2 separate regions of the Homo sapiens genome follow, and region 2 is linked to region 1. Evidence: fine-mapped expression QTL. A gene starts in region 1. The other region holds a variant in brackets. All regions are shown on one strand. Distances are from middle to middle.

Region 1 (5,232 bases):
CATCAATCCTCAGGGCCACACCAGGAGCCTCCGATGCACCCTGGAAGTCCAGCAGCGCAGGGCCCCTTCTGCCGGGGGCCTTGAGAGAGAGAAGCCTAGAGAAATACAGGTCTGCATCAGTGTGACAGCAGGTACAGGGAAAGCCACAGAAGGGACGGGGCTCAATGTCTGCTGCTGCGTCGCCTCCCTCATCACTCCCGCTCCATTTGTGTTGGCCAGGGGGCTCTTACCTCTAGCCCAGGCTCCTCTCTGGTTCCCAGCTGTACTCCTGCCTCCAGGGTAACACTGCTCTGTCCTTCCTCCACATCAGCATTGAACCTCCTTTCCAGATGACCAAAGGACTGCTGTGTTCAGAAAACCTTGCTTTTTCACTGCCGGCTACACACCCCCACCAAATCCTTAATGGGACACGCCATTCTTACCTCAACCTATTTTGTTGTTGTTGTTTTGAGATAGGGTCTCGCTCTGTTGCTCAGGCTGGAGTGCTGTGGCACGATCACAGATCACTGCAGCCTCAACCTCCCAGGCTCAAGCAATCCTCCCACCTCAGCCTCTGGAGTAACTGAGACCACAGGCAAGCGACACCGTGCCTGGCTAATTTTTGTATTTTTTGTAAAGAAGAGGTTTCACCATGTTGCCCAGGCTGGTCTCAAACTCCTGGCCTCCTCAAGCTATCAACCCACCTTGACCTCCTAAAGTGCTGGGGTTACAGGTATGAGCCACCCCACCTGGCCCCCAAACTATTTTTCTAACATTGCCTCCTCCTGTTTCCTGCTGTGCCACACCAGATTTTCACTAACCCCTGCAGCCTCCTTGGCTGTGTCTGAAATGTCACCGACACCACAGTGCCCCCGTCCATCCTGACCGTGCTTATGTGCCCATCCTCTTCCCACAACCCCAAGGTGAAGCAAGGTGAAGTTCACCTGTGTCCCTGTAGCACTTCATTTACACTCTTCTGGCCTTGGTTTTTTGTTGTGGTTCCTCATTTTATCTCCTCCATTGGACCTCAAGCACTTTCAGAACAGGAACTGCTGTCATTCATTCATCTTCACACCCTAACACATACTAAAATGCTCATTGTAAGTGCTCTAGTATGTTTTTCTTTTCTTTTTTTTTTTTTTTTTTTTGAGAAGGTGTCTTGCTCTGTTGCCTAGGCTGGAGTGCAGTGGCATGATCTCAGCTCACTGCAACCTCAGCCTCCTTGGTTGAAGTGATTCTTCTGCCTTAGCCTCCCAAGTAGCTGGATTACAGGCATGTGCCACCACGCCCCTCTAATTTTTGCTTTTTTTTTTTTTTTTTGAGACGGAGTTTCGCTCTTGTTGCCCAGGCTAGATTGTAATGGTGCAATCTCGGTTCACTGCAACCTCCGCACCTCCCAGATTCAAGCGATTCTCGTGCCTCAGCCTCCCAAGTAGCTGGGATTACAGGCATGCACCACCACACCCGTCTAATTTTGTATTTTTTTCGTTTTTTGTGCAGATGGGGTTTCACCATGTTGGTCAGGCTGATCTTGAACTCCTGACCTCAGGTGATCTGCCTGCTTCAGCCTCCCAAAGTGCTGGGATTACGGGTGTGGGCCACCGTGCCTGGCCTTAATTTTTGTATTTTTTAGTAGAGACGAGGTTTCACCATGTTGGCCAGGCTGGTCTCGAACTCCTGACCTCAGGTGATCTGCCCGCTTCAGCCTCCCAAAGTGCTGGGATTACAGGTGTGAGCCACCATGCCCGGTCTCAAGTATGTTTTTCAAAGGAAGGATATTCATGGAGACAATTGTCATTCTTTAAACATTTGATATGCATTTGAGCTAGTCACAGATAGCTGTTAATGTGTAAATCTTGATAACAGGCTTCTAATGTCACCATTTCAGTTTCCTGTGCAGCAAAACAAAAATAACATTAATTTGTGTTATATGGCAACTAATGCACAATAATGAATAAATATCTTAAGTATTAGGGAGAATCCTGGTTAGAGAGTTGATAAAGTGAATACAAACTCCCTTTTCAAGCACTTGAAAGGGAGGGATGGTTTTCCAAGATGAAGACTTAGGTTTGAGTATCTCCCTTTGCCTGAATTTGCTTTTATGTAAAAATAGAGGGTTGGATTCTATCTATTCCCCTTTAACTCTAAAATTATATTATTCCAGCAGTTTTACTTAACAAGAATTGACTATCACACAAATGGTTTTGTGCTAACGTTAGCAATAAACACCTTTTTAAAACCCTGCTTTTACCCATGCTCCCGGGCATGCTCTAAAGTTCATTTGACTTCTAATAATGGATGTGCAAATATGTTGAGTGATCACTTCCACAATGGTCCTGTTCCTTTAAGAGACCACGGTTGTTAAGTTAGGAGATCATTGAACCATATGAGGGTCAATAAAAGAATAAAAAGTCACTGGTTAGCGATTCGAGGACAAGGAACTTGATCCCAGTTCAGTGTCTGTGGGTCCATATGCTGCCCACAGTCAAAGAGGGAGTCCCAGGTTCTTGGCAGCTTGCTTTTCCTCAGGATGGCTTCTGGAAGGCTCATTAAGTTCGTGGTTTTTGAGCTCCTAGAGTTTGCCGCTTTCTCCATCCCCACACTCGTGATCACAGAACAGTTTGCCACCGCCTACCAAGGAACAAGGGCTAGATCTGACAACACACACTACTGGCTGATCATCTCCTGTTCTATTGCCTATGTTGCGTTAGTGACTCTACTGATCTGGGTTCCTGTAAAAGTTATCCTGCACAAGAAACGTTATATTTACAGAAAAATTAAAGGATGGTAAGTAAAAGAATTTTCTTTTTTTTCTTTTTGATTTGGAGTCTCGCTCTGTCACCCAGGCTGGAGTGCAGTAGGGCAGTCTTGGCTCACTGCAACGTCCGCCTCCTGGGTTCAAGTGATTCTCCTGCCTCAGCCTCCTGAGTAGCTGGGATTACAGTCGCACACCACCACACCTGGCTTATTTTTGCATTTTTAGTAGAGACGGGTTTTTGCCATGTTGGCCAGGCTAGTCTTGAACTCCTGACCTCAAGTGATCTGCCTGCCTCAGCCTCCCAAAGTACTAGGATTACAGGCAGAAGCCACAATGCCCGGCCTGTAGAAGAATTCTTTAGTAGGGAATCCCCATGATGCTGTCAAAGATACGTTTGTTTGTTTGTTTTTTTGTTTGTTGTTTGTTTTAACTTTAAAGTTCAGGGGTAAAAGCGCAGGTTTGTTACATAAGTTAACTTGTGTCATTAGGGGTTTGTTGTACAGATTATTTCACCGGCATGCACCACCATGCCCAGCTAAGTTTTGTACTTTTAGTAGAGACGGGGTTTTCATGTTAGCCAGGCTGGTCCCGAGCTCCTGACCTCAAATGATCCACCCATCTTGGCCTCCCAAAGTGCTAGGATTACAGGAGTGAGCCAACACGCCCAGCCTGTAAAAGAATTCCTTAGCAGGGAATCCCCGTGATGCTTTCAAAGATATATTTGTTTGTTTGTCTGTTGTTTGACTTTTAACTTTTAAGTGCAGGTTTGTTACATAGGTTAACTTGTGTCATGGGGATTTGTCGTACAGATTATTTCATCACCCAGGTATTAAGCCTAGTACCTATTAGTTGTTTTTCCTGATCCTCTCCCTCCCACCGTTCACCCTCTGGAAGGCCCCGGTGTGTGTTGTTCCCCTCTGTGTGTGCATGTGTTCTCATCATTTAGCTCCCACTTATAAATGAGAACATGTGGGATTTGGTTTTCTGTTCCTGCGTTAGTTTGCTAAAAGTAATGGCCTCCAGCTCCATCCATGTCCCTGCAAAGGACATGATCTTGTTCTTTTTCATGATTGCATAGCATTCGATAAAGTATATATGCCACATTTTCTTTATCCATTCTATCACTGATGGGCATTTAGGTTGGTTTCCTGTCTTTGCCATTGTGAATAGTACTGCAACGAACATACGGGTGCATGTGTCTGTATAATAGAATGATTTATATTCCTTTGGGTATATACCCAGTATTGAAATTGCTGAGTCGAATGGTATTTCTGTCTTTAGGTCTTTGAGGAATCACCACACTGTCTTCCACAATGGTTAAACTAATTTAGACTCCCACTAACAGTGTATAAGTATTCCTGAAAGATATGTTCTAACATACTGTGGGTAAGGATGTGAGCAGAGCGTAAGGATAGAATGTGACATTAATGGGAGGCTACAATTACTGCTTCTGTGAATGTATGGATATTATGGTATCTTCCTTAATTTTTCTACAGTCATTTATACTGAGTGATAATAACACATGAGATGGGTTAGTAAGACTGGAGTTTGTGCCAGTTCATGCTATTCTAAGTAGTAAATGTTGGACTTAATTCTCCTGGACACTAAATTACATAAACTTATCGGAGTGAGCTTACACAACTCATAATCAGAAGATGGTAATGTAGAATTTTAATTTTGCGTAAAACTGAAAGTAATGTCTATTTTTAATTATTTACATTGCATTTTGCAGGCTTACGTCATACTTTGACCATTAACTACGACTTTTAAAACAACTGGTTCCTTTAGACTTTTTATTTACTTATTTTTTATTTTGAGACTGGGTGTGGCTCTGTTGCCCAGGTTGGAGTGCAGTGGCGTGATCATTGCTCACAGCAGCCTCAACCTCCCCAGGGGGCTCAGGTGATCCTCCTACCTCGACCTCCTGAGTAGCTGGGACTACAGGTGCACACCACCACACCCGGCTACTTTTTTTGTGTTTTTTATAAAGATGAGGTTTTGCCACATTGCTCAGGCTGGTTCCAAACTCCTGGGCTCAAACAATCCACCCGTCTTGGCCTCCCAAAGTGCTGAGATTACAGGCGTGAGCTGCCAAAGCTGGCCTACTTAGACTTTAAAAATAAATAATTTACTGTGTTGGTAAATTCTGTTACCCTTGTAGGGGAGGAAAGTACTTCAATAACAATACAGAGATATTTTAAATAAATCAGGATTTAATGTTAATTTAACTAGCAGTTTAGCTAATGGGTATACTGATCCACATAAGGGTATTGAGAACAAATAGTCTCTGATATTAATGTATTTTTCCTTTTAGATCTTCAGATCTGATTCTTACTCATCTTGGACTTCTCTCTTTTCTTTAATAAGTTAATATAAGCTAATTTTTCTTTCATACTGATGTTTTATTTATTTATTTATTTATTTATTTATTTGAGACAGAGTTTCACTCTTATTGTCCAGGCTGGAGTGCAGTGGCACGATCTCAGCTCACTGCA
Region 2 (5,232 bases), 32 kb before region 1:
GGAAATTGCCCATGCCTGTGTCCTGAATGGTAATGCCTAGGTTTTCTTCTAAGGTTCTTATGGTTTTAGGTCTAACGTTTAAGTCTTTAATCCATCTTGAATTAATTTTTGTATAAGGTATAAGGAAGGGATCCAGTTTCAGCTTTCTACATATGGCTAGCCAGTTTTCCCGGCACCATTTATTAAATAGGGAATCCTTTCCCCATTGCTTGTTTTTCTCAGGTTTGTCAAAGATCAGATAGTTGTAGATATGCGACATTATTTCTGGGGGCTCTGTTCTGTTCCATTGATCTGTATCTCTGTTTTGGTACCAGTACCATGCTGCTTTGGTTACTGTAGCCTTGTAGTATAGTTTGAAGTCAGGTAGCGTGATGCCTCCAGCTTTGTTCTTTTGGCTTAGTATTGACTTGGCGATGCGGGCTCTTTTTTGGTTCCATATAAACTTTAAAGTAGTTTTTTCCAATTCTGTGAAGAAAGTCATTGGTAGCTTGATGGGGATGGCATTGAATCTATAAATTACCTTGGGCAGTATGGCCATTTTCACGATATTGATTCTTCCTACCCATGAGCTTGGAATGTTCTTCCATTTCTTTGTATCCTCTTTTATTTCCTTGAGCAGTGGTTTGTAGTTCTCCTTGAAGAGGTCCTTCACATCCCTTGTAAGTTGGATTCCTAGGTATTTTATTCTCTTTGAAGCAATTGTGAATGGGAGTTCACTCATGATTTGGCTCTCCGTTTGTCTGTTATTGGTGTATAAGAATGCTTGTAATTTTTGTACACTGATTTTGTATCCTGAGACTTTGCTGAAGTTGCTTATCAGCTTAAGGAGATTTTGGGCTGAGACAATGGGGTTTTCTAGATATACAATCATGCCATCTGCAAACAGGGACAATTTGACTTCTTCTTTTCCTAATTGAATACCCTTTATTTCCTTCTCCTGCCTAATTGCTCTGGCCAGAACTTCCAACACTATGTTGAATAGGAGTGATGAGAGAGGGCATCCCTGTCTTGTGCCTGTTTTCAAAGGGAATGCTTCCAGTTTTTGCCCATTCAGTATGATATTAGCTGTGGGTTTGTCATAGATAGCTCTTATTATTTTGAGATACTTCCCATCGATACCTAATTTATTGAGAGTTTTTAGCATGAAGGGTTGTTGAATTTTGTCAAAGGCCTTTTCTGCATCTATTGAGATAATCATGTGGTTTTTGTCTTTGGTTCTGTTTATATGCTGGATTACATTTATTGATTTGCATATATTGAACCAGCCTTGCATCCCAGGGATGAAGCCCACTTGATCATGGTGGATAAGCTTTTTGATGTGCTGCCGGATTCGGTTTGCCAGTATTTTATTGAGGATTTTTGCATTAATGTTCATCAAGGATATTGGTCTAAAATTCTCTTTTTTTGGTTGTGTCTCTGCCAGTCTTTGGTATCAGGATGATGCTGGCCTCATAAAATGAGTTAGGGAGGATTTCCTCTTTTTCTATTGATTGGAGTAGTTTCAGAAGGAATGGTACCAGTTTCTCCTTGTACCTCGGGTAGAATTCGGCTGTGAATCCATCTGGTCCTGGACTCTTTTTGGTTGGTAAGCTATTGATTATTGCCAGAATTTCAGAGCCTGTTACTGGTTTATTCAGAGATTCAACTTCTTCCTGGTTTAGTCTTGGGAGGGTGTATGTGTTGAGGAATTTATCCATTTCTTCTAGATTTTCTAGTTTATTTGCGTAGAGGTGTTTGTAGTATTCTCTGATGGTAGTTTGTATTTCTGTGGGATTGGTGGTGATATCCCCTTTATCATTTTTTATTGCATCTATTTGATTCTTCTCTCTTTCCTTCTTTATTAGTCTTGCTAGTGGTCTATCAATTTGGTTGATCCATTCAAAAAACCAGCTCCTAGATTCATTAATTTTTTGAAGGGTTTTTTGTGTCTCTATTTCCTTGAGTTCTCCTCTGATTTTAGTTATTTCTTGCCTTCTGCTAGCTTTTGAATGTGTTTGCTCTTGCTTTTCTAGTTCTTTTAATTGTGATGTTAGGGTGTCAATTTTGGATCTTTCCTGCTTTCTCTTGTGGGCTTTTAGTGCTATCAATTTCCCTCTACACACTGGTTTGAATGTGTCCCAGAGATTCTGGTACGTTGTGTCTTTGTTCTCGTTGGTTCCAAAGAACATCTTTATTTCTGCCTTCATTTCGTTATGTACCCAGTAGTCATTCAGGAGCAGGTTGTTCAGTTTCTATGTAGTTGAGCGGTTTTGAGTGAGTTTCTTAATCCTGAGTTCTAGTTTGATTGCACCGTGGTCTGAGAGACAGTTTGTTATAATTTCTGTTCTTTTACATTTGGCGAGGAGAGCTTTACTTCCAAGTATGTGGTCAATTTTGGAATAGGTTTGGTGTGGTGCTGAAAAAAATGTATATTCTGTTGATTTGGGGTGGAGGGTTCTGTAGATGTCTATTAGGTCCGCTTGGTGCAGAGCTGAGTTCAATTCCTGGTTATCCTTGTTAACTTTCTGTCTCGTTGATCTGTCTAATGTTGACAGTGGGGTGTTAAAGTCTCCCATTATTAATGTGTGGGAGTC[T/G]AAGTCTCTTTGTAGGTCACTCAGGACTTGCTTTATGAATCTGGGTGCTCCTGTATTGGGTGCATATATATTTAGGATAGTTAGCTCTTCTTGTTGAATTGATCCCTTTACCATTATGTAATGGCCTTCTTTGTCTCTTTTGATCTTTGTTGGTTGAAAGTCTGTTTTATCAGAGACTAGGATTGCAACCCCTGCCTTTTTTTGTTTTCCATTTGCTTGGTAGATCTTCCTCCATCCTTTTATTTTGAGCCTATGTGTGTCTCTGCACGTGAGATGGGTTTCCTGAATACAGCACACTGATGGGTCTTGACTCTTTATCCAATTTGCCAGTCTGTGTCTTTTAATTGGAGCATTTAGTCCATGTACATTTAAAGTTAATATTGTTATGTGTGAATTTGATCATGTCATTATGATGTTAGCTGGTTATTTTGCTCGTTAGTTGATGCAGTTTCTTCCTAGCCTCGATGGTCTTTACATTTTGGCATGATTTTGCAGCGGCTGGTACCGGTTTTTCCTTTCCATGTTTAGCGCTTCCTTCAGGAGCTCTTTTAGGGCAGGCCTGGTGGTGACAAAATCTCCCAGCATTTGCTTGTCTGTACAGTATTTTATTTCTCCTTCACTTATGAAGCTTAGTTTGGCTGGATATGAAATTCTGGGTTGAAAATTCTTTTCTTTAAGAATGTTGAATATTGGCCCCCACTCTCTTCTGGCTTGTAGAGTTTCTGCTGAGAGAGCTGCTGTTAGTCTGATGGGCTTCCCCTTTGTGGGTAACCCGACCTTTGTCTCTGGCTGCCCTTAACGTTTTTTCCTTCATTTCAACTCTGGTGAATCTGACAATTATGTGTCTTGGAGTTGCTCTTCTCGAGGAGTATCTTTGTGGCATTCTCTGTATTTCCTGAATCTGAATGTTGGCCTGCCTTGCTAGATTGGGGAAGTTCTCCTGGATAATATCCTGCAGAGTGTTTTCCAACTTGGTTCCATTCTCCCCGTCACTTTCAGGTACACCAATCAGACGTAGATTTGGTCTTTTCACATAGTCCCATATTTCTTGGAGGCTTTGTTCATTTCTTTTTATTCTTTTTTCTCTAAACTTCCCTTCTCGCTTCATTTCATTCATTTCATCTTCCATCACTGATACCCTTTCTTCCAGTTGATCGCATCGGCTCCTGAGGCTTCTGCATTCTTCACGTAGTTCTCGAGCCTTGGCTTTCAGCTCCATCAGCTCCTTTAAGCACTCCTCTGTATTGGTTATTCTAGTTATACATTCATCTGAATTTTTTTCATAGTTTTTAACTTCTTTGCCTTTGGTTTGAATTTCCTCCTGTAGCTCGGAGTAGTTTGATCGTCTGAAGCCTTCTTCTCTCACCTCGTCAAAGTCATTCTCTATCCAGCTTTGTTCCGTTGCTGGTGAGGAACTGCGTTCCTTTGGAGGAGGAGAGGTGCTCTGCTTTTTAGAGTTTCCAGTTTTTCTGCTCTGTTTTTTCGCCATCTTTGTGGTTTTATCTACTTTTGGTCTTTGATGATGGTGATGTACAGATGGGTTTTTGGTGTGGATGTCCTTTCTGTTTGTTAGTTTTCCTTCTAACAGAGAGGACCCTCAGCGCAGGTCTGTTGGAGTTTGCTAGAGGTCCACTCCAGACCCTGTTTCCCTGTGTATCAGCAGCGGTGGCTGCAGAAGAGCAGATTTTCATGAACCGCGAATGCTGCTGTCTGATCGTTCCTCTGGAAGTTTTGTCTCAGAGGAGTACCCGGCCGTGTGAGTTGTCAGTCTGCCCCTACTGGGGGGGTGCCTCCCAGTTAGGCTGCTCGGGGGTCAGGGGTCAGGGGTCAGGGACCCACTTGAGGAGGCAGTCTGCCTGTTCTCAGATCTCCAGCTGCGTGCTGGGAGAACCACTGCTCTCTTCAAAGCTGTCAGACAGGGACATTTAAGTCTGCAGAGGTTACTGCTGTCTTTTTGTTTGTCTGTGCCCTGCCCCCAGAGGTGGAGCCTACGGAGGCAGGCAGGCCTCTTTGAGCTGTGGTGGTCTCCACCCGGTTCGAGTTTCCCGCCTGCTTTGTTTACCTAAGCAAGCCCGGGCAATGGCAGGCGCCCCTCCCCCAGCCTTGCTGCTGCCTTGCAGTTTGATCTCAGACTGCTGTGCTAGCAGTCAACGAGACTCTGTGGGTGTTGGACCCTCTGAGCCACGTGCGGGATATAATCTCCTGGTGTGCCGTTTTTTAAGCCCGTCAGGAAAGCGCAGTATTAGGGTGGGAGTGACCCGATTTTCCAGGTGCCGTCTGTCACCCCTTTCTTTGACTAGGAAAGGGAACTCCCTGACCCCTTGCACTTCCTGAGTGAGGCAATGCCTCGCCCTGCTTCAGCTCGCGCTCGGTGCGCTGCACCCACTGTCCTGCGCCCACTGTCTGGCACTCCCTAGTGAGATGAACCCAGTACCTCAGATGGAAATGCAGAAATCACCCATCTTCTGCGTCGCTCACGCTGGGAGCTGTAGACCAGAGCTGTTCGTATTTGGCCATCTTGGCTGCCTCTCCAGCCAAAAGCAATGGCAACAAAAGCCAAAATTGACAAATGGGATCTAATTCAACTAAAGAGCTTCTGCACAGCAAAAGAAACTACCATCAGAGTGACCAGGCAACCTACAAAATGGGAGAAAATTTT

Which allele goes with the higher level. Positions count from the first base shown, and alleles are read on the strand shown. Sizes are in standard deviations (SD) of each study's normalised expression.
In carriers of allele T in region 2, the expression in regulatory T cells of the gene that starts at base 2,415 in region 1 tends to be higher than with G alone (large effect, 1.0 SD a copy in Schmiedel 2018).

Evidence for each region.
Region 2: its variant is fine-mapped to the expression of TMEM236 in regulatory T cells (Schmiedel 2018, PIP 0.91).

What each region holds. Positions count from the first base shown.
Region 1 is chr10:17,749,787-17,755,018 of GRCh38, forward strand. It overlaps TMEM236 (transmembrane protein 236), which reads left to right and starts at 2,415. Exons shown (of 4, transcript NM_001098844.3): 1 at 2,415-2,766. The coding sequence starts at 2,510.
Region 2 is chr10:17,717,873-17,723,104 of GRCh38, forward strand. No RefSeq gene overlaps it. Among named protein-coding and RNA genes, the nearest start is that of TMEM236, 32 kb to the right of the region's middle. The variant T/G (reference allele first, on the strand shown) is at 2,574.